4 linked regions of the Homo sapiens genome follow. The protein of the gene in region 1 interacts with the protein of each later gene in a biochemical or structural test. Each region holds a gene or a part of one and is shown in the gene's direction. Other genes may lie near its edges. The genes, in order: POMC, MC4R, MC3R and MC1R.

The links.
Region 2: the proteins of POMC (region 1) and MC4R form a complex in vitro, tested with the Homo sapiens proteins (2 studies listed by BioGRID).
Region 3: the proteins of POMC (region 1) and MC3R form a complex in vitro, tested with the Homo sapiens proteins (one study listed by BioGRID).
Region 4: the proteins of POMC (region 1) and MC1R form a complex in vitro, tested with the Homo sapiens proteins (one study listed by BioGRID).

What each region holds. Positions count from the first base shown.
Region 1 is NC_000002.12:25,165,441-25,174,244, reverse strand, and holds the start of POMC (pro-opiomelanocortin preproprotein), read left to right. Parts: upstream 1-5,664; 5' UTR 5,665-5,747; intron 5,748-8,559; exon of another isoform or gene 8,560-8,609; intron 8,610-8,804.
Region 2 is NC_000018.10:60,370,338-60,377,871, reverse strand, and holds MC4R (melanocortin receptor 4), read left to right. Parts: upstream 1-5,096; 5' UTR 5,097-5,522; coding exon 5,523-6,521; 3' UTR 6,522-6,810; downstream 6,811-7,534.
Region 3 is NC_000020.11:56,244,279-56,250,662, forward strand, and holds MC3R (melanocortin receptor 3), read left to right. Parts: upstream 1-4,453; 5' UTR 4,454-4,565; coding exon 4,566-5,537; downstream 5,538-6,384. UniProt on the Homo sapiens protein: Receptor for MSH (alpha, beta and gamma) and ACTH. This receptor is mediated by G proteins which activate adenylate cyclase.
Region 4 is NC_000016.10:89,913,517-89,921,632, forward strand, and holds MC1R (melanocyte-stimulating hormone receptor), read left to right. Parts: upstream 1-5,439; 5' UTR 5,440-5,742; coding exon 5,743-6,696; 3' UTR 6,697-7,456; downstream 7,457-8,116. Other genes in the region: guanine nucleotide-binding protein subunit gamma 4-like, read left to right, coding at 585-1,624, 4,360-4,531, 5,335-5,439. UniProt on the Homo sapiens protein: Receptor for MSH (alpha, beta and gamma) and ACTH. The activity of this receptor is mediated by G proteins which activate adenylate cyclase.

The sequences.
Region 1 (8,804 bases):
AAAGTTAAGGGCTAGCAGTTGTACAGGACTAACTAGGGACCAGGCCCTGCTCTAAGATCTTTACATGAATTGCCTCCTTTAATCCATATGACAGATAGTGGTCGAGCTGGAGTATACAAACAAAAAGAAGCTTTTGAGCCCCTGAAATACCATAGGCAGGAAGCAAGCAAGAAAATTATTCAGGTGCAAATCTTGGCTATTATGGAAAAGGAAAGCTAACACAGAGAATAGACCAAGAGCCCAGAGGATGGAACCAAGAGCCCAGAGGATGGAACCAAGAGCTAAGGAGATTCATTCCGGGCAGTGGAACTGCCTTCTGAAGGAACTGGTCACGTGGTCACACGTGCCAGGCCAGATTTCAGAATTTCCTTTTTTCTCTTTTCTCTATTTCTTTCTTTCTTTCCTTTTTTTTTTTTTTTTGACAGAGGCTTGCTCTGTTGCCCAAGCTGGAGTGCAATGGCCTCACTGCAACCTCCGCCTCCCAGGCTTAAGCGATTCTCCTGCCTCAGCCTCCCAAATTGCTGGGATTACAGGTGCAAGCCACCATGTCTGGCTAATTTTTGTATTTTTAGTAGAGATGGGGTTTCACCATGTTGATCAGGCTGGTCTCGAACTCCTGACCTTGCGATCTGCCCGCCTTGGCCTCCCAAAGTGCTGGGATTACAGGCATGAGCCACCACGCCTGGCCCTTTCTGCCATCTTTATCCTTGATCCAACATTACCCTCCACCCACAATCACCATTCAGTTCATAGAGTTTTGTTTTGTTTTGTTTTGTTTTGAAACAGAGTCTCGCTCTTGTTGCCCAGGCTGGAGTGCAGTGGCATGATCTTGGCTCACTGTAACCTCTGACTTCCGGATTCAAGCAATTCTCCTGCCTCAGCTTCCTGAGTAGCTAGGACTACAGACATGCGCCACCATGCCTGGCTAATCTTTGTACTTTTAGTAGAGACGGGATTTCACCATGTTGGCCACAGTGGTCTGGAACTCCTGACCTCAGGTGATCCGCCTGCCTCGGCCTCCCAAAGTGCTGGGATTACAGGCGTGAGCCACTGTGCCCGGCTGAGTTGTGCTGTTTTTATGCCAGGATCAAATGGAGAAATGCACAAAAATAGTGAGGAGATTTAAAAAGCATACTTTTCTCAGTAACTAATAGAATAAGACGACAAATAGCAAGGATATAGGTAGAGAAAGGATATAGAATATTTGAGAATATACAGTCACAGAATACAGTGCAGTGAGACACTTCTTTTGGAGTGCACAGGAAGCCCTAATCAAAATGAGCCCTATGTTTATCTGTTAAGCAAGCCTCAAAAAATTTCGAAGGTCTGAAATCAAACAGAGCATATTCTCTGACTACAAGGGAATTAAGCAAAAAATTAGTTTAAAAACATGACTGGAAAATCCCCAAGGTTTAGAAGTTTTTCTTTTTTTTCTAAGTTGGTAATATGAATTGGAAGGGTTAGAGGTTAAGCAGAATATATTTGAATAACCTATAGGTCAAAGAAGACATCTCAATGAAAATAAAAAGATATTTTGAACAAATGGTAATTGAAATATGACATATCAAAAGTTGTGGGATGCATATAAAGCTGTACTTAGAAAGAAAATATAGCCATAAATACATATGTAAAAAAAGAATAAAGGAGCTGGGCACAGTGGCATGCATCTATAGTCCCAGCTACTAGAGAGACTGAAGTGGGAGGATCACTGGAGCCCAAGAGTTGAAGATGAGTCAAGGCAATATTAAAAAAAAAAAAAAAAAAAAGGAAAAAAATGGTTCAATATCAATTATCTAAGTAAAAGTATTTATTTAATGTCCAACTCATGAGTATAGGAAAAGAATAGCTAATTAAACCCAAAGATGTAGAAGGCACGATATAATAAGAGTAAAAATTTCAGAAATATAAAAAAGTATACATATAGTACAGAAAATTAACAGAACCAAAATGGATTATTAAAAAGACTAATAAAATGGATAACACCCTAAGAAAACTAATCAAGAGGCCAGGCACAGTGGCTCACGCCTGTAATCCCAGCACTTTGGGAGGCTGAGGCCGGCAGATCACCTGAGGTCAGGAGTTTGAGACCAGCCTGGCCAATATGGAGAAACCTCATCTCTACTAAAAATACAAAAAATAAGCCAGATGTGGTGGCACATCCCTGTAATCCCAGCTACTTGGGAGGCTGAGGCAGGAGAATTGCTTGAACCCGGGAGGCGGAGGTTGCAGTAAGCCGAGATCATGCCATTGCACTCCAGCCTGGGCAATAAGAGTGAAAGTCTGTCTCAAAAAGAAAAAAGAAAATGAATCAAGAAAAAAGAGAACACAAATAACCAATATCAGAGATGAAAAGGGCCAAAACCACAGATCCCAGATGCTTAAAATATATAATAAACAATTTTAAGCCAATAAATTAAAGAATTTAGATGAAATAGACAAATTCCTAGAAATACATATCTGACTCAAACTGACACATGAAGAAGTAGACAATTGAAATAGTGCCACTTAAGTAATTGAATTTGTAATGGTTTAAAACATTTTTCCTTCTTTTTTCCAGCTCCAGCTGAAAGGATTGATTCTGTAATTAAAAACTTCAATGAACAAACAATCTTAAAGATTTAGATGGCATCACTGGTGAATCATCCCAAACATTTAAGGACGAGATAACACCATTATACGCAAATTATTCTACTTAATTATAAAAAGGGGGAGGGAAGATGGATTTCCAACTTGTTTTATGAGAACAGCATAATTTTTTGATACTCAAATTAGACAAGAATTCCACAAGAAAGGAAAATTACAGGCCCATCTCATGAACATCAATGCAAATGTCTTAAATAAAATATTAGCAAATTGAGTCCAGTGCTTTCTGTATAAGGATAATACATCATAATCAAATTGGGTTTAATCTAAGAAGCCATGGTAGGTTTAACACCAAAAAATCAACAATGCAATAATTCACCACATTACTAGAATAAAGGTGAAAAATTATGTCATGTCAGACAATCAAAGGCACCTGTTCTAGGCTTTCAAAGAGGAGCTAGTGGTACAAGGATGCAAGGGCAGTGGTGACTCCTTTCTAGTGGCATTAGCTGAAGTGAGAATGGCAGCGTCCCATCCTGGGGACAGAAGTGACGTCTATGTCAGACGCCTGTGGTCTTGACATGCCCCTTGTGGCCCCTTGTGGTCTGTTTTTTTTTTCTCCACTGGATGTGATTTTGGCCATGGTTCCAGCCACACTGTGTCCCTGCCCATTTTTAGATCCTGGTCCCCCAACCTGCCCAGTGATTTTTTTTTTTTTTTAGATGGAGTCTTGCTGTGTCGCCAGGCTGGAGTGCAGTGGCGCGATCTCGGCTCACCGCAACCTCCGCCTCCCAGGTTCAAGCGATTCTCCTGCCTCAGCCACCCGAGTAGCTGGGACTACAGGTGTGCGCCACCACGCCCGGCTAATTTTTGTATTTTTAGTAGAGACGGGGTTTCGCCATCTTGGCCAGGAATGTCTCCATCTCTTGACCTCGTGATCTGCCCAACTCAGCCTCCCAGAGTGCTGGGATTACAGGCGTGAGCCACTGTGCCCCGCCTACCCAGTGATTCTAAATGCAGTTCAATGGCCTTTCAGTTCATGGAGGCCAAAGCAGGTTCTGCTGCATTAAATTAAGAAACTGGGCTGGGTGTGGTGGCTAACACCTGTAATCCCAGCACTTCAGGATACTGATGTGGATTACTTGAGCCCAGGAGCTTGAGACCAGCCTAGGCAACATAGTGAAACCCTGTCTCTACCAAAAACAAAAACAAAAACAAAACAAAAAACCAAAACCCAAAATTAGCTGGGCATGGTGGCATGCATCTGTGGTTCCAGGTACTCAGGAGGCTGAAGCATGAGGATCACTTGAGCCCAGGAGGTGGAGGCTGCAGTGAGCAGTGTTCACACTGCTGCATTCCAGCCTGGGCAACAGAGTGAGACCCTAATTCAAAAACAAACAAACAGAATGAGAGAGAGAGAGAAGAAAAGAAAGAAGGAACCCAGTTAAAGAAGTTGGGTCCATTTGGATTTTTCCTGGTTTGTTTTATCTGCTGCCACCAGCAGCCTCCTGAAGTTACAAAAATAACACAAAGTAAAATAAGGCAAAACCACCATCTGCTTGAAAGAGTTTACAAACCTGATGGTGGTCGTGGGGTGGATGGAAGATTAAAAAAATGGGGACAGAAGTGAATTAGTGCAAGCCACTTGCACTGACAAGATGGGGATGGACTTCTGTGGAAGGCAGAGGAGGTCATGCCTCATGCCCCTGGTAGGAAAAGTGGCCAAAGAGGGCTTCAGAGAACAGGGGCTGATGGATGGGCTACATCTTGATGTGAGTCAAGCTCCTGGATGGCTGGAGAGAGGAAGGATGTTCTAGTTGGGGGAACAGCTTGGACAATGGAGACCCAAGAAAGCCATGTTCTAGCAGTGTGAATGTTGTGGATGCTGAAGTGCCAGGATGCAAGGTGGAGAACTGGGAAATGGCCCTGGAAAGGGGCCAAAGCCGGGTGATGAAGCACCTTGTCTACTGTGACGGAGCTTGGATCTCTCTTGTGGTCCAAAGGGAAAGGATTGCTGAATGTAAAGCCAATGTCACCAGAAAAGCTGAATCCACAAGAGAGTCCTGGAGTCCAAAAGAGCATCTCATGGGGAATCAGGAAAGTTCTGGCATTTGGCAGATTAAGCAAGTGTCTTGATTTGAAGTCCAGTTTAGTCCCAATACTCCCTCCCACACCCACCACATCGCACAATTTGGTTTTGTTTATTTACTCCAGGTTAAGGTAGAGTCTCTTAGCTTGGTTTGAGTGCTGTACTCTTCTCTCTGGTCTGATATTTGGAACTAAAGCCAAGCCAGAACTCCAGGGCCAAGGGGGATGTTGAAAATTGTCTGAGTCCCCAGACCACCCTGCCAGCTCATGGCAAAGGGAGGGATCAGAGGCCACAGGGAAAGCACTTCAGCTGCTCTTCACAGCATCACCCTCTCCCCATTTAATGGTTTAGGTTAACAGGACTTTTTCCTTGAGGCTTGGGACACGGAAGGGAGCCTCCCCTAAACCAGGCCCTTGGAGAGCAGGCCCCAGGGGAGCAGTGCAACTCACCTTCACACCCACAAGACGGCTCCTGACTTCTGCTCCCTCCTCCCCTCCCCAAAGTGGAACAGAGAGAATATGATTCCCCACGACTTCCACATCACAGTTTCCAAACAATGGGGAAATCGGAGGCCTCCCCGTGTGCAGACGGTGATATTTACCGCCAAATGCGAACCAGGCAGATGCCAGCCCCAGCACGCACGCAGGTAACTTCACCCTCGCCTCAACGACCTCAGAGGCTGCCCGGCCTGCCCCACACGGGGGTGCTAAGCCTCCCGCCCGTTCTAAGCGGAGACCCAACGCCATCCATAATTAAGTTCTTCCTGAGGGCGAGCGGCCAGGTGCGCCTTCGGCAGGACAGTGCTAATTCCAGCCCCTTTCCAGCGCGTCTCCCCGCGCTCGTCCCCCGTCTGGAAGCCCCCCTCCCACGCCCCGCGGCCCCCCTTCCCCTGGCCCGGGGAGCTGCTCCTTGTGCTGCCGGGAAGGTCAAAGTCCCGCGCCCACCAGGAGAGCTCGGCAAGTATATAAGGACAGAGGAGCGCGGGACCAAGCGGCGGCGAAGGAGGGGAAGAAGAGCCGCGACCGAGAGAGGCCGCCGAGCGTCCCCGCCCTCAGAGAGCAGCCTCCCGAGACAGGTAAGGGCGCAGCGTGGGGGACCCGTGCTCTTTCCCCGGGATCCCCTGTCCCCGTCCTCGCGATGCAGTCGGCCGGCTCCGGCTCCGAAGGCGGACCTGGGCGCCTCTGGCTCTCCGCGGTCCCGAGTTCTCGACAAACTTTCTGCGCCGACTGCGGCATGAGAAGCCGCCAGTAGCTGAGCTGGAGGGCCCACGTCCGGCCCCTGGGCGGACGGCCGCGAAGCTGCAGGCGCTGTCTCCAGGGAGCCGGCGGCCTCCTCTCCCCCAGGGGCTCGCGGCGGTCCGGAGGCTCCGAGAGCTTGCTAGGAGGTCTTGGGACAACCCGGTCTTTTTTTTTTTTTTTGAGACGGAGTTTCGCTCTTGTTGCCCATGCTGGAGAGCAAAGGGGTGATCTCTGCTCACCGCAACCTTCGCCTCCCGGGTTCAAGCGATTCTCCTGCTTCAGCCTCCCGAGTAGCTGGGATTACAGGCATGCGCCACCACGCCCGGCTAATTTTTGTATTTTTAGTAGAGACGGAGTTTCTCCATGTTGGTCAGGCTGGTCTCAAACTCCCGACAACAGGTGATCCGCCCGCCTTGGCCCCCCAAAGTTCTGGCATTACAGGCGCGAGCCACCGCCCCCGGCCAGCCCGGTCTTTTAGTATCTCTTGCTCCCAGTTTCCAGGATAGGTGTCACATCTTGAAAGTCAAATTCCATACACGCTATCGCAAATTAATGTTGGAAACGGGGCAGCAGAGAAAAGGATAAAAGTCATAATGAACGCCCTGCCTTCCGGATTTTTTCGGATTCAGACCCCTGAATCCTTGTTTCCTTGCCCACCTTAGCGCACCCGAGGTGGCCGCGCTATGATAATTACATGATAACTGGGTCAATTACAATGCAGAATAGTTGGGTCTCTTCTCTCCAAGACCTAGCTGGGGTTAAAAACAGGTGGCCGGGGCGGGAGCTGTCCTAGATCCTGAAACGCACTGTCTAGTTTCGGATGCCCTCAACAGAACCGGGGTGGACGGTTTATGGCGCAGATCCTGGGTTGAGGGCACGGGCAGCCATTTGGAATGATCAAGGCTCAGGTAAGGGGCGTTTCCAGCGAAGGAGAGACAGTCCACTTGGCATTTGGATTCCCCAAATTCTTCATGTTTAAATGGGGCAGGGAGGGTTCTTACAGAATGGCTGGAAGGAGCCAAGGAAAATAAAAGTGTGTGTGGATTTTTTTTGTGTGTGTGTCAGTTTATAAACTCTGCACAGATTATGGCCACTTTAATGACTTACTGTTCCTTTGATGCTTTTGTTATAGGACTCGATGCATGTATGTCATGGTGTAAGGACAAAACTCGGCCCCTGTGCTCCTCTAATCTTTACAAAAGGTCATGGCCAGCGTGCAGTTTTACAGTAACAAGCAAAATGATTTGTTGAGCTCATAGAGAGCCCCTCACACCTATGAAGTTCTAATAAGTGTAGTTCTACTATAAAGTTAATCTCAGGATGAGCAAATTTCAAGTTTCTATTTTTCCAGAGCTTTCCATTTTTGGATTATAATACTTTCCCTACTTAAAAAAGCACAACATTTGATATTTCCCCAATAATTTGTTGCTTTAAAAATGACACAAAAGGTACTATTTGTTCATTGTAGAGAACTGAAAATACACATAAGCAAATACACATACACATAAGCAAAATATACAATACAAACACAAGACCATCTTTCAGGGAAGAATCTGAAGTTTTAGCAATAGCAGCCATCTAACCAGTTTAGCAACAGAATATAAGCTCTGAGAGGGTGGGAGTGAATATGTTACCACATTGTACAACACAGCACATAGGGCATAAGGAGGGGAAATGCTCTCTGGGGCTTTCCAGGAAGGCCTGAAGTCATTGCTTCTAGCAAATGGAAATCACTCCAGAGTAGTTATCTTTGACAAGAATTGAAATATAATTGAGGGAACTATCAGACCTGTAAGATTTTGTTTTTTCCTTTACTAATATGTTACTTTACATTTGCATTTGGTGACATACGTAACTACCATTTTTCTGTGACTGTAACATCTGGGCATTTTTCAGAGCTAAATGTGCTATGGTCAACTTGGAGCTTTAATCTAATTGCCTGGTCCACCAAGTTCTGGCTGTGTACTTGAATAGATCACTGGCAGGGTACAATGGGAACAGCCTGTCCCTTGGAGCCAGGAGAGGACACCAAGGTTGACCAAAGCTCGTTCAGTTGCCCCTTTAGCCGAAGCGCACCTGGGCCAGTCACTGGCTGCCAGTGCCATCTAATGGCTGCTCTGAAAATGCTCAGCCTTGCCCGGCAACCCTTCAGAAGCTAGCACCGTGCAGGCCCAGCGCCTGGGGAATAGGGCGAGGGTGGGGTAGAGAGAAGGAAGTGGCCTCCTGAAGTAGAAATCAGCGCTTCAGAGGACTTTCACTTCCAAAGCCTCCCCTATATAAAAAAGATTTGGCCCACGCCTCCCCAAATGAGAGATTTATTTTAGGCAAACTTATTTTAAAATGCCAGCGTTCATTAGGAGTGACAAGACACTTAGTCATCCACGCTTTAATGTGAATTACTTTTCTCATCTAATTACATTTCTTTCTAGCAGCTGGCTGAGAAGATCTTCTGAAATCCAAAATGATTGTAGGGTTGGCGGTGAGCTGATCTCCGGCCTCGAGGTGGCTTCAGGGGGCCCACCTGGTTAAGGGAAATTTGGCAGTGCGAGGGTAGTGCTGGAGAGAGGGGTGGGTACAGGGGGCTAGGGGCACCATGGATGCCCCCTCCTTACTGTCCCCTGGTGTCTTGACCTCAGCTTCTGCCCACAGGCACTTGCTGGATTCTCCAAAAGTATCTGCAGTGGCTGTTCCACCAGGAGGTAATTCCCTTCTGGTCTCTTTCCCCTCCACATCTGCATCCTCTTCAAATCCTGCCATTTCAGACCACATTTGAGAGCTCTAGAGAACAAGACATCTGACACGTGACGTGTCCAGAAGATGAGCCAGATTTCAAAGAACTGAGATCTGCTTTAAAAACGAAGCTCTCCAAAGTTACTGGAGTCTGGGTAATAGTG
Region 2 (7,534 bases), on another chromosome or scaffold:
TCCCTTTCATTAATATTTTGTGGTGGAAAAACTCTTAACAACTAAAAACAGTGTTCCATGTATCATAGTTTGGTAAACATTTTTCTATATTAATGTTTCACATTTATTGTTATAAAATATAAAACAAGATTTTTCTCTCAGAACAGAAATAAATTATGCTCTAATTCAATTTTGTGAGGATTACAAAAGAAATCTGAAATAAATTTTCAAAAATACTATCAATGTGTCTAATATTACTGGTTGTATTTCTTCTGGCTCGTAGAGAAATATGAACCATGGCGGACAAATAAAATACCATATTCGAGATCAACTTTTCAGCACAATTAACCTTACAATAAAGATCTTATAAATCTACACCCAGTGATTAAATTTTTGATGTTGAGGGTATGTAATTTTCTGGGACTTCAGTGTGATCCTTTTGTTCATAAATAAAACATTTTTATGGGAAAAAAATTTTAAGGGAGTAATTAATTTTGTTCTTTATTACTAATTTCACCTATTATTTCTAAATTAACATTTTTATTTTATTCAAGTTTTTAACCAGTTCTTTTATTCTGTTTTTATATGCAATGTTTATATAGGATTTAGAATAAGTATGAAATAACTATTTGATCATTTATTAGATAGTCTGTTAAGGAAGAAAATTGCCATAGATGAATCTAATATAATTTAATCTTTTTTCAGATAAAAGGCAATAGATGGAAGATGAGAGTGGAAATGAGAGCATCAGGATGATTGAAAATTCTCTCATCGGTTAAAACAACTAGAGCACTTGCAAAGCTTGTCAGGATTAACACTTTCAGAACTCTGAAAATTGACCAATACTTCAAATAACCCAAGGTAAATTTATTCAGGAAAATGGCTAAATTGAAGTAAGAAGAGTGAAACTTGCAGCATTTTAACTAGACATATTTTCCCATTCCAAACTCACCAGCTCTGCAGTAGCTTTGACAACTAACATCCTATAAAAATGTTTAAAAGCATCAGTCTAGCAGGAAATGGAGGGTGCAAAATGGGGTTGGATCTTCTTCAAAGCTCCATTCCCGTTACCAGAGATGCCATCATTATTTTGACCTATCTGTTGGTTTCCTGACAAACTCTACTTGCAGGGGTTTCTTATTTGACCTAACTCAGAACTCACCCACGGAGAACAGTCTTTTCCTCAGGGACATTTGTTGGAAACAATCAGAACAACTGCTTAACATCATGGCTGCCTAAGGCAATGGATAGAAGTTGGCGAAAAAAAATCAGCTATTCAAAAAGCCTAAAAGAAAAAGCTCAAGAAAATGAGATGTCCATAGGAATTTATTAAAACTCTAATATATTCCTGAGAATCTAGAAAGCCGTACAAACATGCAGGACTGTGCTTATGATCAGAAACAACAACAACAACAACAAAAACTAAGAAGGTCTTGACTTCTCACCTCTGGCTGACCTTTGTGGCTGTGTGTAAGCAGAAGGTAAGGCCAAGGCAGAGTTGCCCAGTGCCTGGCTAAGTGTCAAAGGCATGCCCATCATGGACACAGAGTCTCTCAGCAATGACTAGGGGAGATGTTAGTTCCTGACATCTAAGGAAATCTCTGTCCACTTATCAGCTGACCAATAAGCTATCAGAGCAGAGACCTCATTGATCATACAAGACAAAGAATACAGACATTCTAGAATTATTTAAGAAAAATTACTGAACAACAACAATAACAAACAACAACAACAACAAACCCTGGGTAAGAGAGAAAATCTGATTTTCAGGGTTGCTGGATTGTGTTATTCAAAATTCCCCGTTTCTAACAAAAATGAATAAATAAAATGCAGGCAAATAAATAAGAAAATATAGCCCATACACATTAGGAAAAGGAAGTCAGCAGAAATTATTCCTGGGGAAGTCTAGATGTTGCACTTAATATATAAAGCCTTTAAATCAGTTCAAACATGTTCAAAGGATTAGCGAAAACTATACGTAAAAATTAAAGGAAATTATGAGAACAATTTCTCATCAAACAGAAGATATCAAAATATAAGTGTAAACTTTAATAACCATGGGTTAGGCAATCCTTTTTTAAATATGATCCCAAAAGCTCAGGCAACCAAAAAAATTTGATAAATTTAACATCATCGTAATTAAAAGGTTTGTGGTTTCAAGAACACTATCAATAATTGAAATGGCAAAAGTACCCAGAATATGTAAAGAGCCACTACAACTCAATAATTTAAAAAAATCCAATTAAAAATGAGCAAAGGATTTGAATAGGCATTTCTCCAAAGATTATTACACAAGTAACTGGTAAGGATGTAAAATCATCTTCAGTATCATTAGGCATTAGGGAAATGAAAATCAAAAGTATAATGAGAGTTCACTTCATATCCTTATGATGGCTAAAATAAAAAAGATGGACAATAGCAAGTGCTAGCAAGAATGTGAAGAGATTTGAACCCTCATACATTGCTAACTGGAAATGTCAAATGGTGCAGCCACTTCAGAAAACAGTTTGGCAGTTCCTCAAAACAAGAAACAGAGTTATCATATGATTCAGCAATTCCATTCCTGGTTGTGTATCCAAAAGAATTGAAATCATCTGTCACATAAGAATTTGTCCATAAATATTCCTAGCAGCATAATTCGTGATAGCCAAAACTGGAAATAACCCAAATGTTCCTCAACTGATGAATACATTTAAAAATATAATGTATACAGCCAGGTGCAGTGGTTCATGCCTGTAATCCCAGCACTTTGGGAGGCCGAGGCGGGCGGATCATGAGGTCAGGAGATCGAGACCACGGTGAAACCCCGTCTCTACTAAAAATACAAAAAATTAGCAAGGTGCGGTGGCGGGCACCTGTAGTCCCAGCTACTTGGGAGGCTGAGGCAGGAGAATGGCGTGAACCCAGGAGGCGGAGCTTGCAGTGAGCTGAGATTGCACCACTGCACTCCAGCCTGGGTGACAGAGCGAGACTCCGTCTCAAAAAAAAAAAAAAAAAAAATATATATATATATAAATGTATACATACAATGGAATATTACTCAGCCATAAAAACAAATCAAAACTGGGCACAGTGGCTCATGCCTGTAATCTCAGCACTTGGAGAAACCGAGATGGGAATATCGTTTGAGCCCAAGAGTTTGAGACCAGCCTGGACAACATAATGAGATTCAATCTCTACAAAATTATTTTTTAAAAGCTAGCTGGGTGTGGAGGTACATTTAGTTCCAGCTACTCAGGAGGCTGAAGTAGGAGGATCACTTGAACCTAGTGAGCCATGATCATGCCACTGCACTCCAGCCTGGGTGACAGAGCAAGATCCTGTTTTAATTTTTTAAAAATCAAATTCTGATTCACATTATAGTGTAAGCAAACCTTGAAAATATTATGCTACATGAAAACAGTGAGCCACAAAAGGCCACATATTGCATTATTTCAATCATATAAAATGTCTAAAATAGGCACATTGATAGAGACAGAAAGTAGATTAGCAGTTCCTAGAGGATAAGGAAAGGGTAAAATGGGGAGCAACTGCTAATGGGATAATGAAAATGTTTTAGAAATAGAAAGTGATGATTATGGCACAACTCTGTGAATATATTCCCCCAAAAATCCATTTAATTACTAAAGAGGTGATTTTTTTTGGTATGTGAATTATATGTCAATTTTTAAAAAGAGAAAAAATAAGGCAAGAGGAAGGTAAGATTATTTCCAGCTCATGATGTTCAGGAAAGCCCATTCCAGCATTTTACAATATACAGATGATTAGGCATTCAGAAATACAGGGGAAGGGAGTTGGAGGTGTGAGTTCTGCTCTGTGCAATCATTCAAGAGACAGGCTCCTTTCATGATATGGTCCTGCCACCTGTAACATGAGATTTCAAAGACAGGAGAGAAAACTTGTGTAAAATTATGAAAGAGCTAATGCGATGAGCCCCACTGTCAACATGCCATTAGCTAGAATTTAGTCATAAGGTCCTACCCAATTCCAAAGGTGGATGGAAGACGTTAATTTATCTCAATGCTCAGGAACAATACTTAGTATTGTCTCTGTCACAAAAGGAAAGAGGATACATTCCCAACCTAAGTAACTGAGATTCAGAATTAACCCTGAAATAAGCAGCTACAAACTATAGAGCACTAAAACCAAAAATAATCATAGAAGAAAAGAATATACAAAATTTTGTATAATCTGTTGTTCAGTTAATTTGGAAAGTAACTTTGCTGCCATCTTTCAAACCACCTTAAGCAAAATATTCAGAAACTTCAATAACTAACTAGTATCACCAGTCTTGGCTTGATAAGTAAAGTTACTAGGTATTTGTCGGTTCAACTTACGATACGTTAAACTCTGGAGGTTTAAAAAAAAGTTGCTTAAAAAAAAAAAACAGAATGCAGCTTATTATTTTCCTGAGTTCAGTGTAAGCATAGTTACATTAATGCCGTATGAGTTTAAAATATTGTAAATAAAAAGCACCTTTTTTCAGCTATAACACAAACTCCTCAATAGAGAAATATGGGATATTAGTGCATTAAAATCAACCCCTTTTGAACCCATTCATAATTTATAGCTACCTACATAGTTCTTCCAGCCATACCATGTCTATCTGTATCATTAAATATCCTCTCTGTTTTTCAGGTATTTTAACTGAACCACTACTGGCTGGGTTCTTAATAAAAACAAAAAATTAAGAAGGTAAATAAATTCAGTATCCTAGCCAAAAAGCAGAGTATCTGTTTCAGGAACATAAGACAGTATACTTTCCATTTCATTTTACACACACACATGATGTCTTTTACATAAGAATGAACCTGGCTGCCTGAAGATAGCTTGTTTTGATATCACAGAATGGCCTCTAGGGATCAAGTTGTTTCCCTTGAAAACTTAAAAAGGGAAATTCAGTCTCTTATCCGGCTTGCTTCTCGACTTCAGACTTCAGGAGCTTCTGCATCTGAATCTGTGTCACCCTGCAATTTGTGTCTCTGAAACATAATCCTGTCTCACAGACTCCCATTGCATTGGGATTGGTCAGAAGGAAGCAGAGGAGGAGCCACCGTGAACATGTTTTTTTTCTCTCCACACATCATAAAAATCAGCAGCTGGCGCCTACAGCCCCTAACACTCAAAGCAACGCTCAGGCTGGAAACAGAAGCTTCCGAGAGGCAGCCGATGTGAGCATGTGCGCACAGATTCGTCTCCCAATGGCATGGCAGCTTCAAGGAAAATTATTTTGAACAGACTTGAATGCATAAGATTAAAGTTAAAGCAGAAGTGAGAACAAGAAAGCAAAGAGCAGACTCTTTCAACTGAGAATGAATATTTTGAAGCCCAAGATTTTAAAGTGATGATGATTAGAGTCGTACCTAAAAGAGACTAAAAACTCCATGTCAAGCTCTGGACTTGTGACATTTACTCACAGCAGGCATGGCAATTTTAGCCTCACAACTTTCAGACAGATAAAGACTTGGAGGAAATAACTGAGACGACTCCCTGACCCAGGAGGTTAAATCAATTCAGGGGGACACTGGAATTCTCCTGCCAGCATGGTGAACTCCACCCACCGTGGGATGCACACTTCTCTGCACCTCTGGAACCGCAGCAGTTACAGACTGCACAGCAATGCCAGTGAGTCCCTTGGAAAAGGCTACTCTGATGGAGGGTGCTACGAGCAACTTTTTGTCTCTCCTGAGGTGTTTGTGACTCTGGGTGTCATCAGCTTGTTGGAGAATATCTTAGTGATTGTGGCAATAGCCAAGAACAAGAATCTGCATTCACCCATGTACTTTTTCATCTGCAGCTTGGCTGTGGCTGATATGCTGGTGAGCGTTTCAAATGGATCAGAAACCATTGTCATCACCCTATTAAACAGTACAGATACGGATGCACAGAGTTTCACAGTGAATATTGATAATGTCATTGACTCGGTGATCTGTAGCTCCTTGCTTGCATCCATTTGCAGCCTGCTTTCAATTGCAGTGGACAGGTACTTTACTATCTTCTATGCTCTCCAGTACCATAACATTATGACAGTTAAGCGGGTTGGGATCATCATAAGTTGTATCTGGGCAGCTTGCACGGTTTCAGGCATTTTGTTCATCATTTACTCAGATAGTAGTGCTGTCATCATCTGCCTCATCACCATGTTCTTCACCATGCTGGCTCTCATGGCTTCTCTCTATGTCCACATGTTCCTGATGGCCAGGCTTCACATTAAGAGGATTGCTGTCCTCCCCGGCACTGGTGCCATCCGCCAAGGTGCCAATATGAAGGGAGCGATTACCTTGACCATCCTGATTGGCGTCTTTGTTGTCTGCTGGGCCCCATTCTTCCTCCACTTAATATTCTACATCTCTTGTCCTCAGAATCCATATTGTGTGTGCTTCATGTCTCACTTTAACTTGTATCTCATACTGATCATGTGTAATTCAATCATCGATCCTCTGATTTATGCACTCCGGAGTCAAGAACTGAGGAAAACCTTCAAAGAGATCATCTGTTGCTATCCCCTGGGAGGCCTTTGTGACTTGTCTAGCAGATATTAAATGGGGACAGAGCACGCAATATAGGAACATGCATAAGAGACTTTTTCACTCTTACCCTACCTGAATATTGTACTTCTGCAACAGCTTTCTCTTCCGTGTAGGGTACTGGTTGAGAATATCCATTGTGTAAATTTAAGCCTATGATTTTTAATGAGAAAAAATGCCCAGTCTCTGTATTATTTCCAATGTCATGCTACTTTTTTGGCCATAAAATATGAATCTATGTTATAGGTTGTAGGCACTGTGGATTTACAAAAAGAAAAGTCCTTATTAAAAGCTTAACAATGTCTCCTTCGTGTTATTCATAAGCATTGGACACTTTGCGTGCTTTCGTAACATAGAAATCAGAGCCTCATTAAACATATTCTAATAAATGCTTTATTATATTATATTATCCACCATTGAAATGTAGAGAGTTCATTCTAGCAGTTAAGGGAAAATATTTAAAGAATAGATGTATAATCATTTTTAAAAATATCATCACTGAAATTTCAAGTAATTTAATTAAAGGTTTGTTCATCCTCCCTGTGCAGAAGTAGAAATGAAGCTCCTCTAGAGAGAAAAACAGGTGCTGAAAAAAGAGAGATGCTGAGTTAGAAAACTATGTGTACTTCTCAGACACAGAAAGATTCATCTCCCTTAGCAAACAGCCTGATATTTCACACAGGCAATTCGGTTTGGGGTGGGTGGGAAAAGGCAGCTATAGGGATGAAAGTGTCCTGGAAAACCTAAGTTGCCATGTCAAGCTAAATTTCCTGTTACCAAATTATCCCTAAACAATATTAATAAAACAGAGAATGGGGATTTATGCCCCCTTTAAACAAGGATTCAGGGTCTGCTGAAGTGTCCAGAAAAGGTAATATTGTACTGAGAGATTTAGCTTCCTGTTTCTAGAGAAGTACAGGACTGACATCGAATTCTTTCTCATTTCACATGAAAATGACTTGCTGTTTACTTATTGCTGATTTTTTGAACTGGAGTACAAATGTTGATTATCAAGGATTTTAAACTTC
Region 3 (6,384 bases), on another chromosome or scaffold:
GTTGAGCGTTGCCCCTGGGGTCATTTACTCCCCCCTCATTTCCAGGTTGAACTTTGTCAGATGAGGAATGCCACACACACACACACCAGGGAAGACTCTGGGGCAGAATGTGTTCGTCACCCTTAAAGTGGCACCCTGGCAGTGTAAGTTGAATCTGAGCTCCCACGGAACTGGGGGAGCTGTCCAGCAAACGGCTGTTGAAATCAGAGGTAAGCTGGGTGCAGGGACACAGGCATCAGCAGCATCTGCCCCTCATGAAAAGTTCATATTTATAATAAAATCTAATCGTTGTGTTCTAACATGACTGCTGGCCAAACTGTCCCCCTTTTCGTGGCATGGATGTGACCTCTAATTATGCAATATTCTGCATGTCATTTTTAAAACAGCTTTGTTGAGATAGCGTCAATATACCATACAATTCACCTAAAGTGGACAATTCAATGGATTTTTAGTGTATTTTAGTATTTTCACTAATGACTAATCATATTGAGTCTTTTTTCATGTGCTTGTTGGACATGTGATATCTTCCTCGGTGAAATGTCTATTCAAATCCTTTGCTTCCAATCATTAAATTGGGCAATATGTCTTTTTGTTATAATATTAAATTGTAAATGTTCTCTATGTATTCCAGATACATGTCCCTTATCAGATATCTGATTTGTAATTACTTTCTCCCATTCTTTGTGTTGTCTTCTCATTTTTGTGGCATCTTTTAAAACACAAAAGTTGTTAATTTTGAGGAAGTCCAATTTACTTTTTTTTTTTTTTTTTTGAGACAGTGTCTCGTTCGCTCTGTTGCCCAGGCTGGAGTGCAGTGGTGCAATCTCAGCTCACTACAACCTCTGATACCTGGGTTCAAGCAATTCTCTTGTCTCAGCCACTCGAGTAGCTGGGATTATAGGCGTGCACCACCACACCTGGCTAATTTTTGTATTATTAGTAGAGGAGACAGGGTTTTGCCATGTTGGCCAGGCTGGTCTTAAACTCCTGACCTCAGGTGATCCACCTGCCTCAGCCTCCCAAAGTGCTAGGATTACAGGCATGAGCCACCATGCCTGGCCCACTTTTTTTTTCTCTTGTTGCTTGTGCTTTTGAGAGTGGGGAAGGAGTACTGAACCCTGTCAGCTTGTCAGCAAGGAGAAAGGGTGGTAAATTAGTGTATGAAATTTAAGAAAAGCTGTAAAAAATAGTTGACATTTAAGCTGGATCTTGAAGAATAAGGAGGGTATACCAGTCACAAAATTGAGGAAGAGCTTTTCAGGCAAAGAGACCACCTGGGTTCATTATCTCCTAGAATAAGAATCTCCTTGTTACATTTATTATAACTGATTCAAAACAGACACCCCCACATATGCCAACAACATACGGTAAACACTGACAGAGACTGTCATGTCCTACAATTGTTATTAATAAAGCCAATTCATTCATGCAAGATTCAGTTAAAACGTAATGCTGCATCTGTGCAACTCCCCCAGGAAAGTGGGAAGTAGTGTTTGGAGAAGACCAAATAAACACTCATGAGTGATGATGATACCTCTGAGGACACAGATTTTAAGTACTAGGTCCCAGCTGCTCTCTTTGAAGGATGCACACGACCAGAGAATGAAAGCAGGAAAAGGTGGTCAGTGCTCAGCACGTGCCAAGCACAGAGCAGGAAAAGACCTAGTAGATAATGAATGGTCCCTGCCTTATAGTCTAGCTTTACATGTATGACTCATGCCCTTGAAACCACAGACTGGATGTGACCCTGAGGGTAAGAGAAGTTCCCAAAAGGATTAAGAATGTGTTTTTTTCCAACCTAGAAGAATGGTGGCTTGGCATCAGAAATTAAGTCGTTCTGTTGAAAATAAACAGAAGTGGAAATGTATATTCAGGGCAACTTAAACTCATGCTCTTGACAAAATATTTTTTTAAAAAAAGCAAATAAACAAAAGTATTTCTCATGCCCCTCAGTTCATAGACAGAAACTCATACCAACAGGCTTTTTTTTTATTTTAGTAAGAACTGCCAAATGGTGAAACTATTCACAAACACTAGAAATGCATGAGAGTGTCCTCCCGATATTCTTACCTGAATTTTGCATCTTTTTATCTCTTGTCAATCTAGCTGGGAAAACGATATTAAAATCTCATTTTGACTGGCATTTCCCCAACTTCCTAGATGGCTTCACATCTTTTCATGTTTATTAACCATTTGCATCTTCTCTTCAGTAAATTATTATTTATATCCTTTGCCCAATTTTCTTAGGGGTAATTTATCTTTTTCTAGTTAATGTGAAAGTAGTCTTTGTATGTAAGAGATAGTAACTTTACCTATAGCAAATATTTTCATTCTGTTTTTCTTTTAACTTAGTTCAGGGTGTTTTTCCATACTAAATTTTGGATTGCTCATCTTGCTTAAGATCTTTCCACCCCAAGGATCCTAAGTTTTCTTCTATTTCCATATGCATATTTTTAATATTTCTCACACCTACACACACATACATAGTTACATGGAGAGATGGATCATTAATTCACCTAGAATGTGCGTGTGTGTGTGTGTGTGTGTGTGTGTGTGTGTGTGTAGGGATGAGAAGACTCAGTGTTTTCTGAGTTCATATGATCTACATGGGGAATCAGATCTAACATGGACCAAGTGTTAAACCATACTTCCAAGAACAACACTACATTAGTAGGCCACCTGCTAACTTCTGCCTTTCACATTTTCCAGCTTAAAACATCTCCATCCTCCCCATTATGTAAGAAAGAAGTACAGGTGTTTCTGACTGCTCCCTCTCCCATGATCCCATAACCCATCAGTTCTGAAGCTGCATTATCCAACCTTCTGAATCTCTCTGACCACCCTCCAAGTCTTCCAAGTCCCCATGGCCACTCCCTTGCTCCAGGCCACCATCATCTCACCCTGGGTCTTTGCAACACCCTCTGCCCCGGACTCCCTGGCCTACATGCTCAGTCTGTCTAATTCATTCTCCACCCTGCAACCAGGAATATTTCTAAAATGCAGACCCCATCTCATTCCTGCCCTACCTATGTTTCTTCCACAGTCCCCATTGCTGTCAAGGTACTGTCCAAATTCTCACATCTGGCTGAGGCTGTCCTTCAGGATTCAGGCACCTCTCAACTTTTTAAGAAACTGTGCAGCCTCATTTCTCAGATTGTGTCTCCTATTTCCATGCTCTGACCAGAGCAGACTACTTTCAGCACTTTCAAAAGCCCAAGATTCTTTTTCAGTGGAGCTCAACTGTGACTATGCCCCAGCTCACCTGTCAAAAATTGCAAACACACTTGTTCAGGTCTTACACCTGGGTGATTCTGACTCCGCGGGTCAAATGGGATCTCCACATCCACAATCTGTGATGACTTCTATGGCCAGGGTGCTCTCTGCCTCCAGGCTGCAGACGTGTGATTCCCTCTGCCTGGAGTCCTCTTCTACCTCCTCCAGCTCCAGCCCCCACCCCACCACCCACCCCAAACTGGATATGACCTCTTCCTCCTTGAAGTCAAAGCATAGGTGCTCCTTCCTCCAGGAACTTTGACAGTCCGGGTTAGGGCTCTTCCTCTTTGCATCCCTGGTTTCCTGGACTTTCCTGATTCAAGCATTTATTGATTCCTCTTCTTCCACCCCAGACTCTGAGTTCGGGGAAGCCTGAGATAGTGGCTGTTGTCTTGCTCACCACTGTATTTCCTGCACTCAGCAGAGACCTGACACATAGTAGGCGCTCAATAAATGTTTGCTAAACAACAACAACAAATGAATGAACTAACAAATAAACAAACAAATGAACAGATGAGTGGATGCCTGTGGCAGTTTCCATGACAAACACAAAGGGCTAAGCCAAGCCAGCAAGCAGACAGCCGTGCGGCCTGCAGAGGGCACTAGTCTGCTTCTTAATCTCCCTGCAGAATCCTCAGGGCCAGGTACCTGCTGTCAGTCAGAGAGGTGCCCGATGCTCAGTGGTCATTCTGCTGCGCTGAAGATTAAGTAGGAGTTGTTTGCCCTTGGCCAATATGAAAAACCTGAGTGTTCTCCCTTCACTTCTAGCGACAAGTAACACATCCCCTGTCTTGCCATGAAAAGAGCTGTAACTGTAGCAGCCGGTGGCAGGTTTTCTGTTCCCAGGTGGGGAAGTGAGGAGAGACAAACAGAGGGGTGAGAGGGAGACAGAAGGAAGACAGCTGGTAAGAGACCCTATGGTGTATTTTTTCTATGTAAACAAGATAAAAACTGCTCCTCCTGGAACAGCAAAGTTCTCCCTATGTCTCCAAGCTACAAACTTGCATGCTAGCTACTAACTAGCTACTCTCCCTCTCTCTCTCTCTTCCCCCTTCGCTCTTTCTCTCTGTGTGTATGTCTCTCTCTCTCTCTGTCTCTTCCTCCACCCTCTCTCACTATCTGTCTCTCTACCCTCCCCATCCTTTTATTCTAGAGGAGAATAAACTCTAAGGCCAGATTGAATGAGCATCCAAAAGACGTATCTGGAGGGAGATTTTGTCTTTCCTGTGAGCAGCAGCAGCTTCCTACGGACCCTGCTGGAGCCCCAGCTCGGATCAGCCCTTCTGACAGCAATGAATGCTTCGTGCTGCCTGCCCTCTGTTCAGCCAACACTGCCTAATGGCTCGGAGCACCTCCAAGCCCCTTTCTTCAGCAACCAGAGCAGCAGCGCCTTCTGTGAGCAGGTCTTCATCAAGCCCGAGGTTTTCCTGTCTCTGGGCATCGTCAGTCTGCTGGAAAACATCCTGGTTATCCTGGCCGTGGTCAGGAACGGCAACCTGCACTCCCCGATGTACTTCTTTCTCTGCAGCCTGGCGGTGGCCGACATGCTGGTAAGTGTGTCCAATGCCCTGGAGACCATCATGATCGCCATCGTCCACAGCGACTACCTGACCTTCGAGGACCAGTTTATCCAGCACATGGACAACATCTTCGACTCCATGATCTGCATCTCCCTGGTGGCCTCCATCTGCAACCTCCTGGCCATCGCCGTCGACAGGTACGTCACCATCTTTTACGCGCTCCGCTACCACAGCATCATGACCGTGAGGAAGGCCCTCACCTTGATCGTGGCCATCTGGGTCTGCTGCGGCGTCTGTGGCGTGGTGTTCATCGTCTACTCGGAGAGCAAAATGGTCATTGTGTGCCTCATCACCATGTTCTTCGCCATGATGCTCCTCATGGGCACCCTCTACGTGCACATGTTCCTCTTTGCGCGGCTGCACGTCAAGCGCATAGCAGCACTGCCACCTGCCGACGGGGTGGCCCCACAGCAACACTCATGCATGAAGGGGGCAGTCACCATCACCATTCTCCTGGGCGTGTTCATCTTCTGCTGGGCCCCCTTCTTCCTCCACCTGGTCCTCATCATCACCTGCCCCACCAACCCCTACTGCATCTGCTACACTGCCCACTTCAACACCTACCTGGTCCTCATCATGTGCAACTCCGTCATCGACCCACTCATCTACGCTTTCCGGAGCCTGGAATTGCGCAACACCTTTAGGGAGATTCTCTGTGGCTGCAACGGCATGAACTTGGGATAGGATGCAGGGCCATGGAAATGATCATCAGTCGGGTCACTTTTGACTTTCCATCCACGTGAGGTGTTTAGAAAGAAAAATATATATACTTAGAAAATATAAAAATGTGTTAACAGCCATGATTGTACTTGTCGTTTGTTTTTAAGTTTACAAAGCCTTTTAAAGGGGAAAATTGGTGAACAACAGATTCTCTGAAAGGATTCCAAGATGGGTAAGTCACAAACTCTGATTTCCCAAATAGTCACTGGGAGAAATCAGCGAAGGCTTCTCTGCATGCTCTCTGCACTCATTTCCAAACACCCAGGGTGTGCGACGCCTGTCTGCTCATCTGCTCCACACCCACGTCTTCATGCTCCAGGCCAGACCAGACTGAAGGATTCTCATGAACAATAAGGGTGGTTCAGATCTCTTGCAAGCAAACCTGTTACAGCTACGACCTCCTGCTGCCAGCTACACGGAGAGATAGCTTTGCACTTATAACTCCGTAGGAGACTGAGTTCTACTCTATTATTCTATTTACAGTTAGACAATTGTCTCTTTGTGAAAGGAGCAATGCTATGCCGTTTTCCCCTTTTCTTACCCCCATATCCCTTCAGTTGTCCCCACCCCCAAAGGTAGCATGAGGATGTAACCCACTTCTATTTTTCTGTTGTTGTGTTGGTGTGTGTTGTTGTTTTGTTTTTATGGATTAAATCTAAGACAACCTTCAAAACTCTAACGAAAGAGAGAAAGTGCTTTGGACAATCAGAATATACTTGTGTACGTGTATTTTGATACCTTGCTATTTTAAGGTATAGATTAATCTTTTTAAAATAACTTCTTTTTTTCTATCATTTACTTTTAGCCTTTA
Region 4 (8,116 bases), on another chromosome or scaffold:
CTTGGCCCTGCTCAGCCCAGCGAGAGGCTGAGGCGCACGTGGCTCCCCGGGTGCCCACAGGCAGCGTGGCTCACCAGCCGGGCCCTTTTCCACTGAGCCAGAACCCCCCAAAGCCTTCAATGCAGGCACCACGGTGAGCCCACGAGAAACCCTGCTTGCCACCTCCCACACCCCCACCCCCAAGTTCAAAGGAAATGGTCCCTGAACCAAGGGCTGAGATCAGCTGTGGGTCCAGCTGTCCTGGGGAGCTGTACTGGAGCCCACCACGGTGGGACTGTTGGTCCGGCGGTGACCCCCACCTCCATGTCTGTGGCCGCAGCTGGACAGGCCACTCCCTGGGCCACAGAGATGTTTTACCTCTCGCAGCCCTCGGGCACACATTGAGCAGATGTGTGTGTGTGTGCGTGTGTGGGTGGGTGCGCATTTGTGTGTGCCTGTGTGTGTGCGCATGTGGTGTGGGTGCACGTGTGTGCACGTGTGTGGGTAAACATTGTGTGTGCGCATACGTGTGTGGGTAAACATTTGTATGTGCACGCGTGTGTGGGTAAACGTGTGTGCGCACGTATGTATGTGTGTACATTTGTATGTGTGTACATTTGTATGCATGTGTGCCTGTGTGTGTGTGCCTGTGTGTGTGGGTGCACATTTGTGTGTGTGTGTGTGCCTGTGTGTGTGTGTGCACGTATGTATGTGTGCACACTTGTATGCATGTGTGCCTGTGTGTGTGGGTGCACATTTGTGTGTGTGTGCCTGTGTGTGTGGGTGCACATTTGTGTGTGTGGGTGCACATTTGTGTGTGTGTGCGCCTGTGTGGGTGCACATTTGTGTGTGTGTGTGCCTGTGTGTGTGCCTGTGTGTGTGGGTGCCTGTGTGTGTGGGGCACATTTGTGTGTGTGTGTGCCTGTGTGTGGGTGCACATTTGTGTGTGTGCCTCTGTGTGTGTGCCTGTGTGTGGGGGTGCACATTTGTGTGTGCGCCTGTGTGTGGGGGTGCACATTTGTGTGTGCGCCTGTGTGTGTGGGTGCACATTTGTGTGTGTGTGCGCCTGTGTGTGTGGGTGCCTGTGTGTGTGTGGGGCACATTTGTGTGTGTGTGTGTGCCTGTGTGTGGGTGCACATTTGTGTGTGTGCCTGTGTGTGTGTGCCTGTGTGTGGGGGTGCACATTTGTGTGTGTGTGTGCCTGTGTGTGGGGGTGCACATTTGTGTGTGTGTGTGCCTGTGTGTGTGGGTGCACATTTGTGTGTGTGTGTGCCTGTGTGTGTGGGTGCACATTTGTGTGTGTGTGCCTGTGTGTGTGGGTGCACATTTGTGTGTGTGTGTGCCTGTGTGTGTGGGTGCACATTTGTGTGTGTGCCTGTGTGTGGGTGCACATTTGTGTGTGTGTGCCTGTGTGTGTGTGCCTGTGTGTGTGGGTGCACATTTGTGTGTGTGTGTGCCTGTGTGTGTGGGTGCACATTTGTGTGTGTGTGTGTGCCTGTGTGTGTGTTGCAGGCCCTGGATGCCAGACACTGAATAAACGCAGGAAGACGTCTGTCTTCATTCTCCTCGTGGGTCGCTGGTCCAGAAACACCTGGATGGAAAGTGCTCTGCAGGAACGGTGCCTCTGCCTGTGGCGGGGACCCTGGTGAGCGGATGGGCCAGCCCCACGTGTCTTCCGGCCACTCAGCATGCAGTGTTTCCAGGGGCACTAAGAGACCAAAATCGAGATATGATTAGCTGTAGGATGTCATCTAATCACAGATCATCCCGAGGCTAATTTATCTCCCCCATGACCATAACACATCAAAAAGTTGACTTTTTGCAGCTCGGCTGTGCCTCATCTTCCCACGAAGCCCCGACAGGCACATCCAGTGAGGAACCACAGTGGGAGTCCTGTGGCAGGGTCACCCCACTTCCGATGCCCTCCAGCTGCATCTTGGCACGAAAAAGGCTGCCCAGTTCTCATGCCCTTTCAAGTCCCGGGCTGGGGGGTAGCAGTGGAGGCTGGGGTTAACCGCCGTCCGTCTCAAAGGCCTCATTGTGGAGCTGCAAACACGAACGTCCTTGAAATGTGAGGGGACAGTGCTCTGGGGCAGGGGCTGCTCACTGGTTCATGGCCAGAGGTGAGCGGGCTCTGGGTCTGGGTCTGTGAGGTGCTGTGGACGTCGGGGGTGCTCCTGGGGCAGGGACACAGCCACGGCCCTCACACCAGTGGAGCCGTCTTCCTTCCCGAGGCAGAGGCTTGGCCTTCTCACACCTTGGGACCCTTCTCTCCCCTGTGCTCATGCTGGAAGCACAGCGTGAGGGGGCAAAGGTCATGGGAGGCAAAAGGCTGGGCTGAGGCCGAGGCTCTGTGGCTGTGGCCGGATACCAGGTCCTGTGGTGGTGTGGGCAGGGCGCGCTCTCTCCTCTGAGCAGCCTGGGGCTGCGTGTGTGAACAGAAACAGGCCTGCCGATTTGAAGATGGTTTGACCAAGTCTCCCAAAGCTGAAGAGAGGTCCCTGCCCATGTCCCCCGGGTGGCAATCCACAGACGCACCTGTGTCCATCAGACGGTATCGTTGATAGGGAGTCTGAAGCCACCCAGACGTGGTCTGTTCACGCCGTGGACACCACGGTCTGAGGCAGACGGTTACAGCCACCGGCATAGGCGAATCTCAGCCAGAGAGAGTGAACTGGGACACCATTCACGTGATGGGCCAGATGGGCTGGCAGCGGCTCGCTGGAGCCGTCCGGGTGGGAACGCTGTGTCTGTTGGTCTGGTGCTGCTTATGTGGCTGGTTCAGGTCTGTCATCCGTCAACCTGCATATTTATCACTGGTGCATTTTCATGTATGTTGTACCTCAATTAAAACATTTTAGGGCCGGGCGCGGTGGCTCACGCCTGTAATCCCAGCACTGTGGGAGGCGGAGGCGGGAGGATCATGAGGTCAGGAGATCAAGACCGTCCTGGCCAACATGGTGAAACCCCATCTCTACTAAAAAAAATACAAAAATTTGCCGGGTGTGGCGGCACGCGCCTGTAGTTCCAGCTACTCAGGAGGCTGAGGTATGAGAATTACTTGAACCCAGTAGGCAGAGGCTACCGTGAGCCAAGATCATGCCACTGCACTCCAGCCTGGGTGACAGTGAGACTTCGTCTCAAAAAAAAAAAAAAAAAAATTAAAGCAGATGGGGTGTGGGGGCTCATCCCTGTAATCTCAGCATTTTGGGAGGCTGAGGCGGACCGATCACCTGAGGTCAGGAGTTCAAGACCAGCCTGGTCAACATGGTGAAACCTCATCTCTACAAAAAATACAAAAAATAGCCAGGTGTGGTAGTGGGTGCCGTAGTCCCAGCTAGTTGGGAGGCTGAGGCATAAGTATTGCTTGAATCCAGAAGGTGGAGGTTGCAGTGAGCCAAGAATGCACCACTACACTCCAGCCTGCGCGACAGAGTGAAACTGTCTCAAAATAAATAAATACATAAAAATTATATGTATATATATATATATATATATTTTTTTTTTTTTGAGACTGTATCTCTGTTTCCCAGGCTGGAGTGCAGTGGTGTGATCTCGGCTCACTGCAACCTCCGCCTCCTGGGTTCAAGCAATTCTGCCTCAGCCTCCCAAGTAGCTGGGATTATAGGCGTGCGCCACCACGCCTGGCTGATTTTTGTATTTTTAGTAGAGATGGAGTTTCACCATATTACCCAAGCTGGTCTTGAACTCCTGACCTCATGATCCGCCTGCCTCAGCCTCCCAAAGTGCTGAGATTATAGGGGTGAGCCACTGTGCCCGGCAATAATAATTTTTTTTTTTTTTGAGACAGAGTTTTGCTCTTGTTGCCCAGGCTGGAGTGCAATGGTGCAATCTCGGCTCACGGCAACCTCCGCCTCTCATGTTCAAGCTATTATCCTGACTCAGCTGGGATTACAGGCACCCACCACCACACCTGGCTGATTTTGGTATTTTTAGTAGAGACGGGGTTTCTCCATGTCGGCCAGGCTGGTCTCGAACTCCTGACCTCAGGTGATCCACCCGCCTTGGGCTCCCAAAGTGCTGGGATTACAGCCCTGAGCCACCATGGCTGACAATAATAAAAAATTTTAAAGCAAAACTAAAGATTTATAAATTGTAAAATGCGGTTGTAACAAGTATTTACTGTACCAGTAAATATGAAAAATATTAATGTCCTCACACACATGGAGGTGGCTTGTGAGTGGTGTGAGCATTTCATGGTCAGAGTTTGGCAGTTGGGCGAGAGACAGGATGGATTTTAACTCGAACATCGCAGACACAAAACTGAAAACCCTGATGCGGTGCCTGCACCGTTGCCTCCTTTCCTGCAGCTGTAAATGGGACGAGTAATTCCATCCCCCTCCCGCTTCCACCCTTCAGCACAGACGCAGTCTTCAGCAAGGAAGTGCTGGGAACGCCCTGGAGTGAACCCAGGAAGATGCCTGCAGTGGGTGCCAGGGCCCCTCTCCACCGTCCCTGCTGGGCTTCGGGGCCACGCCCGACTGCTGTGAACGGCCTGCGGAGCACCACGTGCGACGGCTGGAGGCGAGAGGTCTGCCTTTGATGTGGCTGTTGGTGCAGGGCCTGTGGTGCCTTCCGCAGCGGAAATGGCGCGCCGCCCGGGGAGGGCGGGAGCAGCGTCCCGGGTGCCCCTGTGAGGATGAGCGACGAGATGACTGGAGGGTCCCTGAAGACCTCACTAGGGTGCCCCCAGCCGGTCCGCTCCCAGGAAGCGACACCCCCACAGCCCCAGGGCTGCAGCTGAGGGGGTCGCCACTCTGGCTGGGCGAGGCTGGGCCCTTGGGGGCAGGCGCCAGAGTGGCCTCAGGCTCTACAAGATGCCTGAAAACACCAACCTCTCCAGGGCTCACTAGCATTGGACGCTTTCACGCTCTGCCCTGGCCGGAAGCCCCCTCACCCCGCGCGATGTGCAAACTCCTGCAGGGCTCACTCAGTTTCCAGAACTTTAATTATTGGAAAGTTCTCCCTGGTCCAGCCCCCAAATCTGCCGTGAACGTTGACAGCTGAGTTGCTGCTCCATGCGTGCTTTGGCTGAGAGCAGAGGGGACCCCTGTCCTCCCTGAGCTGCTGACGAGGGGAGGGGTGAAGGGTGGGGCCTCTGGAGAGGGCAGGTCCCGGGGAAGCTCCGGACTCCTAGAGGGGCGGCCAGGTGGGGGCCCTGGTGACCAGGACAGACTGTGGTGTTTTTTAACGTAAAGGAGATCCGCGGTGTGAGGGACCCCCTGGGTCCTGCACGCCGCCTGGTGGCAGGCCGGGCCATGGTGGGTGCTCACGCCCCCGGCATGTGGCCGCCCTCAGTGGGAGGGGCTCTGAGAACGACTTTTTAAAACGCAGAGAAAAGCTCCATTCTTCCCAGGACCTCAGCGCAGCCCTGGCCCAGGAAGGCAGGAGACAGAGGCCAGGACGGTCCAGAGGTGTCGAAATGTCCTGGGGACCTGAGCAGCAGCCACCAGGGAAGAGGCAGGGAGGGAGCTGAGGACCAGGCTTGGTTGTGAGAATCCCTGAGCCCAGGCGGTAGATGCCAGGAGGTGTCTGGACTGGCTGGGCCATGCCTGGGCTGACCTGTCCAGCCAGGGAGAGGGTGTGAGGGCAGATCTGGGGGTGCCCAGATGGAAGGAGGCAGGCATGGGGGACACCCAAGGCCCCCTGGCAGCACCATGAACTAAGCAGGACACCTGGAGGGGAAGAACTGTGGGGACCTGGAGGCCTCCAACGACTCCTTCCTGCTTCCTGGACAGGACTATGGCTGTGCAGGGATCCCAGAGAAGACTTCTGGGCTCCCTCAACTCCACCCCCACAGCCATCCCCCAGCTGGGGCTGGCTGCCAACCAGACAGGAGCCCGGTGCCTGGAGGTGTCCATCTCTGACGGGCTCTTCCTCAGCCTGGGGCTGGTGAGCTTGGTGGAGAACGCGCTGGTGGTGGCCACCATCGCCAAGAACCGGAACCTGCACTCACCCATGTACTGCTTCATCTGCTGCCTGGCCTTGTCGGACCTGCTGGTGAGCGGGAGCAACGTGCTGGAGACGGCCGTCATCCTCCTGCTGGAGGCCGGTGCACTGGTGGCCCGGGCTGCGGTGCTGCAGCAGCTGGACAATGTCATTGACGTGATCACCTGCAGCTCCATGCTGTCCAGCCTCTGCTTCCTGGGCGCCATCGCCGTGGACCGCTACATCTCCATCTTCTACGCACTGCGCTACCACAGCATCGTGACCCTGCCGCGGGCGCGGCGAGCCGTTGCGGCCATCTGGGTGGCCAGTGTCGTCTTCAGCACGCTCTTCATCGCCTACTACGACCACGTGGCCGTCCTGCTGTGCCTCGTGGTCTTCTTCCTGGCTATGCTGGTGCTCATGGCCGTGCTGTACGTCCACATGCTGGCCCGGGCCTGCCAGCACGCCCAGGGCATCGCCCGGCTCCACAAGAGGCAGCGCCCGGTCCACCAGGGCTTTGGCCTTAAAGGCGCTGTCACCCTCACCATCCTGCTGGGCATTTTCTTCCTCTGCTGGGGCCCCTTCTTCCTGCATCTCACACTCATCGTCCTCTGCCCCGAGCACCCCACGTGCGGCTGCATCTTCAAGAACTTCAACCTCTTTCTCGCCCTCATCATCTGCAATGCCATCATCGACCCCCTCATCTACGCCTTCCACAGCCAGGAGCTCCGCAGGACGCTCAAGGAGGTGCTGACATGCTCCTGGTGAGCGCGGTGCACGCGGCTTTAAGTGTGCTGGGCAGAGGGAGGTGGTGATATTGTGTGGTCTGGTTCCTGTGTGACCCTGGGCAGTTCCTTACCTCCCTGGTCCCCGTTTGTCAAAGAGGATGGACTAAATGATCTCTGAAAGTGTTGAAGCGCGGACCCTTCTGGGTCCAGGGAGGGGTCCCTGCAAAACTCCAGGCAGGACTTCTCACCAGCAGTCGTGGGGAACGGAGGAGGACATGGGGAGGTTGTGGGGCCTCAGGCTCCGGGCACCAGGGGCCAACCTCAGGCTCCTAAAGAGACATTTTCCGCCCACTCCTGGGACACTCCGTCTGCTCCAATGACTGAGCAGCATCCACCCCACCCCATCTTTGCTGCCAGCTCTCAGGACCGTGCCCTCGTCAGCTGGGATGTGAAGTCTCTGGGTGGAAGTGTGTGCCAAGAGCTACTCCCACAGCAGCCCCAGGAGAAGGGGCTTTGTGACCAGAAAGCTTCATCCACAGCCTTGCAGCGGCTCCTGCAAAAGGAGGTGAAATCCCTGCCTCAGGCCAAGGGACCAGGTTTGCAGGAGCCCCCCTAGTGGTATGGGGCTGAGCCCTCCTGAGGGCCGGTTCTAAGGCTCAGACTGGGCACTGGGGCCTCAGCCTGCTTTCCTGCAGCAGTCGCCCAAGCAGACAGCCCTGGCAAATGCCTGACTCAGTGACCAGTGCCTGTGAGCATGGGGCCAGGAAAGTCTGGTAATAAATGTGACTCAGCATCACCCACCTTAGCCCCTTCCAGAAAGTGCTTGAAGTTTGCGGGTGGAGGGATGGGGGAGGGGAAGGTGGGCAGGGGTGAGAGTCGAGAGGGAAGAAAGGAGTCCCGGAAAACGTGGCTGCCTCCCCAGGTGAGGAAGCCACAGCCCCAGAGGCCCCAAATGCCTGGGGAGTGTGGAGGTCCCAACCAGGCTTGCGCTGACCCTGCTTCTCGGTTTTCTCTCCGTGCTGACAAACCCCAGCCTAGAGGAAGGACGAGCAGGTGCAGCAGGGCCCCAGTCCCCTCCACTCTTGACGCTGTCCTAGCTGCAGAAGAGGCGGGTTCCCAGCCTTCCCTGTGACCACATGTGACCTCAGCCGGGACACATCCCTTTGCTGGCCCTGGCCCTGAGTCCCTCCAGCCATGATGAGCCGTGAATGGGACCATCCCTGTCCACTCTGAGATGCCTGGAAGGGGGCTCAGTGCAGGTGGGCTGGGGGCTGGGTCTGCTGTCTGCCCAGCACTGCCATTCTGGGAGTAGGCAGGTGGGGAAGGGGTCGGGGGTGGAGGGTCTGTGTTCAGCCAGTCCTGGGAAATGCTTGATGTGAGGCTTCTGAAGATGGCAGTGAGGCAGAGGCCCAGCCGGCGGAGAAGTCCCTGGGAGTGAGTACCTGGGGATGAACTATGCT